Linked DNA regions of Homo sapiens: region 1 is linked to region 2. The links come from fine-mapping of genetic effects on gene expression. Tissue or cell type: skeletal muscle. Region 2 holds a variant in brackets; the other region holds the start of a gene. All regions are shown on one strand. Distances are between the middles of the regions.

Region 1 (2,679 bases), 51 kb before region 2:
TGTACATATCTCTCATTCTCCCCTTCTCTCTCTAGCTCTTGTTTTCTTTTCTTTTTACCTGGCATTCTGCTCCTCATTTTGTACCCCTCTCCTCTCCTGCTGTTTATCCCCTTCTTCCCTCTATTCCTTCTCTTCCACCTCTTCTGCTCCATCCTCGCAACTTACCTAACTTCTTGCTGTTCCTTCTCCCCAATCGTTCTATCGTCCTCAATCTTGATATATTTCCGCCTCTTCTCCCATCTCTGTGCATCCTCTGCTCTCCCTGTTAAATTCCGTCTTCCCTGTTATACCCCCTGTCCCCAATATGTGGAACCACAGATCCCCAGGTGTCCTCCCTGCTGTGGTTCTCCCTCTGTTCTCCTTGCCACCAGCACCACTCTGCTCTGTCTGCCCTGGCTCCAAATCCCTCCTCCTCTCCCTCACTCTGATGAGATTCCCTCTTTGCTGCCCCTCTCCCTACCTTGCTGTCCTTCATCTCTCTGTACATCTAGGTTTCTCTACGTTTCTCCAGTTACTTTTCTCCTCCTGCTTTCTTTTTTTTTCTTTTCACTTTTGCTGTCTCTTGACAAATCCATCACCCACCCTCTACTTTGCCCTCTGTTATGGGTCTTTCTCATTCTTTTCTCTGTCTCAGCTTTTCTACTGCTCTGTCTCCCAATGCCTTTGGCCGACACAATCACAGGAGGGTTTGGATAAGACGCCTGCATCCCGGAGGAGCTCGTTTTCCGGGGGCTGGAGCTGGGCAGGCAAGAACACCCCGTGTCACAGGACAGGCCCCGGGTACCTCCCCAACGCGGGTTCAGGGGAAGAGGTGACTGTGGAGGAGAGACCTGTGGAGCAGCAGGGCCCGCCACGAGGAGGGAGGTGGGGGGGAGACGGCGCCTTAAGACAAGGTTGGGGTCTGCAGGATTCCAGGACCAGGCAAAGTACGCGGCCTCCCTGGGACTGGGGCCCTGGCGCTGCGCTCCAGTGGCCTACGAAGGCGAGGGTGGGAGGCGCCCAGGGCGGGAATCCAGCTCTCGGGTGAGGACTTTAAAAAGCGAGGGGCGGGAGGAGTCAGAAAACAGTTTTGAGCAGGAAAACTACGCGACAGGAAGTGTATACATCGCCCTACAGCAGAAAGACCGGGGACAGCCCAGCCTCAGGGCGACTTTAAACCCAAAAGGAAGCGATATCCGGACTCTCATGGGGACGTCTCAATTTGTCCTGGGTGAAGGAAGAAGGGAGAGAATTTCCAGGTCTGTGGGGACCCCACGTCTCAGGTACAGCAGCGCCGGGGACCTGGTAAGCGCAGACTTAATAGAAGAGCGAAACTCACCGCCACGGTGTAACTTTCACTCCACATAATCCGCTTCCGGGTTTGCGCGCATGTGCGCGCGCAGTACAGAAGCCAGGTCTGGGCGGGGCCCGCGAGGTGGGCGGGGCCTGGATGAGGTAGGGGCGGGGTGGGAAGCCGAGAGACTTTCCCCTTTAGAACCAGCAGTGGGCGGGGCCAGGGCGGGACCTGTGAGTCTCTCAGCATCGTTCCCAGCGCAGAGGCATTTTTCGGGTTTTGGAGGCGAGACCGGCCAGGAAGGCTGAGGCATGATTCAAAAGCCCTGGAATTATCTGGAACGGGGATGCAAACTAGAATGTGAAATGCAAAGCCCTGCCTGGGCGGAAGGTACAATTTCATGCTGATAGCCCACAGAACCGAATAGAAATCCTCTCCCTTTCTATTCTCCATTCACTTGGGAGAGAGTCCACGCTGTGCTCAGCTTTAGAGACTCAGGCCACTGCCTGAGATGCAGGATGGAGTGCTCAGGCCAAGGATGGGTGAGGTCACCACCTGCGGCTTAAACACAGCTGGGATATGGGCGCGGGAGTGGGAGCCTGAGGTCCCAGCTATTCAGGAAGCAGCGGCGGGAGGATCGCCGAGCCTGGGAGTTCAGGCCAGCCTGGGCGACAAAGTAACACCCCCTCCCGCAGGGCTCCCTTCCTCGTCTCTCTCTCTCTTTTCTTTTTTATAATAAAATTTTTGATGATGTTACATAGGGATCCAACATTATTCTTTTCCACGTGGATATCCAGTTAGTTGTCCCAGCGTATTTGTGTAAGAGATCTATCAGTTTCTTTTTTTGTTTCTTGAGATGGAGTTTTGCTCTAGTTGACCAGGCTGGAGTGCAATGGCGCGATCTCTGTCTCCCAGGTTCAATCGATTCTCATGCCTCTATCTCCCAAGTAGCTGGGATCACAGGGATGTGCCACCATGCCCTGCTAATTTTGTATTTTTAGTAGAGATGGGATTTCTCCATGTTGGTCAGGTTGGTCTCAAATTTCCGACCTCAAGTAATCCGCCCGCCTCGGCCTCCCAAAGTGCTGGGATTACAGGTGTGAGCCACCGCGCCCGGCTTATTTTCTTTTATATATTTAGTTTTTTCTATTTTTTTTTTTTTTTTTTTTTGAGGCAGAGTTTTCTTTTTTGGCCAGGCTGGAATGCGGTGGCGAGATCTGGGCTCACTGCAGCCTCTGCCTCCTGGGTTGAACCGATTTTCCTGTCTCAGCCTCCGGAGTAGTTGACATTACAGACGCGCACAACCATGCCCGGCTAATTTTTGTATTTTCGATACAAACGAGGTTTCACTATATTGGCTAGGCTGGTCTCGAACTTCTGACTTCAAGTGATCTGACTGCCTCAGC
Region 2 (2,655 bases):
CCTACTCATCTGATCCCAAAGTCCCCCTGCCCCTTCTTTTCTTTGGTAACAGGGTCTCACTCTGTTGACCAGGCTGCAGTGCAGTGGCATGATCTTGGCTCACTGCAGCCTGGACCTCCCGAGCTCAAGTGATCCTCCTCCCTTGGCCTCCAGAGTAGCTGGGATTACAGGTGCGCACCATCATACCCGATTAATTTTTTTTTTTTTTTGGCAGAGATAAGGATCTCACTATGTTGTGCAGGCTGGTCTAGAACTCCTGGACTCAAGCAATCCCCCTGCCTCAGTCTTCTAAAGTTCTGGGATTACAGGCATGAACCACTGTACCCAGCCTCTCTTTCTTCATTACTTTGCTTCCTTCCCTGATTCTGTACGTATCTCTCATTCTCCCCTTCTCTCTCTAGCTCTTGTTTTATTTTCCCCCGGGGTTCTGCTCCTCATTTTGTACCTCTCTCCTCTCCTGCTGTTTATCCCCTTCTTCACTCTATTCCTTCTCTTCCACCTCTTCTGCTCCATCCTTGTAACTTATCTAACATCTTGCTGCTCTTCTCCCCAATCTTTTGATCATCCTCTATCTCTATATGGACAGAAATTTAAAAATAATAAGTACTGCATTTATTCACTCCAAGAAAAGTAAAAGCTAAGGCCCACAATGTGGCAAGGCAAGGTTTAAAAATAAAAAGAAAAGAACAAGTTTTCCTCTGCCTGTCAAGCTCACATCAAGAACGGTTACAGGATAACGCTGTCCGAATAGCCAAGTCTAAATGAATGGGCTCCAGACACCCCCACCTTCCAGAGCAAGGTTGAAGGAAAAAAAAAAAAAAAAAAAAAAGAGAGAGATTATTTTACTGTTACTCTTTTTCCAGGCTTCTTAAGCATTATTATGTTTTACAAATGTCTGTATTTAGTCAGTTCTTGTTTTTCCTTTGATGCAGCTACAAGGCCACCGGCAACCCAAGGTCACAAGATATGTTATGCTATAGATTACACAACCTGTCACTGTATAATTAACTGCTTTTGTTTTGCTTTTGTAAGGCCACTTATAAAAACCCTGCTCTGTCTTTGTTCAGTGCTCAGCTTTTTGGATATGAATCCACTGAGCCAGTGCGTACCTAAAA[T/C]AAACAATTCTGTTTCTCTCATATTGGTCTCTCCATTCTTCAGTTTCCCCTAACACAAATATTTCCGCCTCTTCTCCCATCTCAGCGCCTCCTCTGCTCTCCCTGTTACATTCTCTCTTCCCTGTTATACCCTCATCCCCACTCTCTAGCACTCCAGATCCCCAGGTGTCCTCCCTGCTGTGCTTCTCCCTCTGTTCTCCTTGCCACCAGCACCACTCTGCTCTGTCTGCCCTGGCTCCAAATCCCTCCTCCTCTCCCTCACCCTGATGAGCCTCCCTCTTTGCTGCCCCTCTCCCTACCTTGCTGTCCTTCATGTCTCTGTACATCCAGCTTTTCTCTACATTTCTGCACTTGCTTTTCTCCTCCTGCTTTCTTATCGTTTTCTTTTCACTTTTGCTGTCTCTTGGCAAATCCCTCACCCATCCTCTACTTTGCCATCTCTTATGGCTCTTTCTCATTCTTCTTTTCTCTGTCTCAGGTTTTCCACTGCTCTCTGTCCGTCTCCTGATCCCTTTGGCCCACACAATCACAGGAGGGTTTGGAGTAAGACGCCTGCATCCCGGAGGAGCTTATTTTCCAGGGGCTGGAACTGGGCAGGCAAGAACACCCCGTGTCACAGGACAGGCCCCGGGCACCTCCCCAACGCGGGCTCAGGAGAAGCGGTGACTGCGGAGGAGAGACCTGGGGAGCAGCAGGGCCCGGCACGAGGAGGGAGGTGGGGGGCGACGGCGCCTGAGGACAAGGGTGGGGTCTGCAGGATCCCAGGACTAGGCAGAGGACACGGCCTCCCCGGGACAGGGGCCGCGGCGCTGCGCTTCAGAGGCCGACAAGGGCAAGGCTGGGAGGTGCCCACGGCGGGAATCCACTTCGCGGGTGAGGACGTTAAAAAGCGCGGGGCGGGAGGAGTCTGAAAATGATTTTGAGAAAAAAAAAAAAAAAACAACAACAACTACGCGATAGGAAGTGTATACATTGCCCTAGAGCAGAAAGACAGGGGATGGGACCAACCTCAGGGCGACTTTAGACCCAAAAGGAAGCGACTTCCAGACTCTCACGGGGATGTCTCTATTTGCTCTGGGTGAAGACGGGAGAGAAGTTCCAGATCTGTGGGGACCCTAGGTCCGAGGGACAGAAACGCTGAGGACCTGGGAAATGCAGACTTAATACAAAACAGCGAAACTCACCGCCGCGGTGTGACCGTCACTCCACGCGATCCGCTTCCAGATTTGCGAGAATCTGCGCGCGCAGGACAGAAGCCAGGCCTCGGCGGGCCCCGCGAGGTGGTGGGCGGGGCCTGGGCCGGGTGGCGGCGGGGCGCGAAGCAGAGAGACTTTGCGGTTTAGAACCGGCAGAGGGCGGGGCCGGGGCGGGACCTGTGTGTCTCACATCCTGGCTCCCAGCGCCTCTGTTTTTCGGGTTTGGGAGGCGACAGCGGCCAGGAAGTATGAGGCATGATTCAAAAGCCCTGGAATTTTCTGGAACGGGGATGCAAACTAGAATGTGAAATGCAAAGCCCTGCCAGGGCGGAACATAGGATTTC

What was found. PIP is the estimated chance that this variant, and not a neighbour inherited with it, causes the effect.
Region 1: it holds the start of ZNF83, and the variant in region 2 is fine-mapped to the expression of ZNF83 in skeletal muscle (GTEx, PIP above 0.99). The same link has a PIP of 0.9 or more in sigmoid colon and tibial artery.

Annotation. Positions count from the first base shown.
Region 1 is chr19:52,636,994-52,639,672 of GRCh38, forward strand. It overlaps ZNF83 (zinc finger protein 83), which reads right to left and starts at 1,362. Exons shown (of 3, transcript NM_018300.4): 1 at 1,319-1,362. It also overlaps the pseudogene LOC124904757. RefSeq lists enhancers at 290-808, 809-1,326, 1,080-1,199 and a silencer at 1,410-1,609.
Region 2 is chr19:52,688,144-52,690,798 of GRCh38, forward strand. It overlaps LOC122539214 (Zinc finger protein LOC122539214), which reads right to left and starts at 2,353. Exons shown (of 4, transcript NM_001396016.1): 1 at 2,300-2,353. It also overlaps a transcript of ZNF83 not described here. RefSeq lists an enhancer at 1,487-2,022 and a silencer at 2,316-2,525. The variant T/C (reference allele first, on the strand shown) is at 1,116.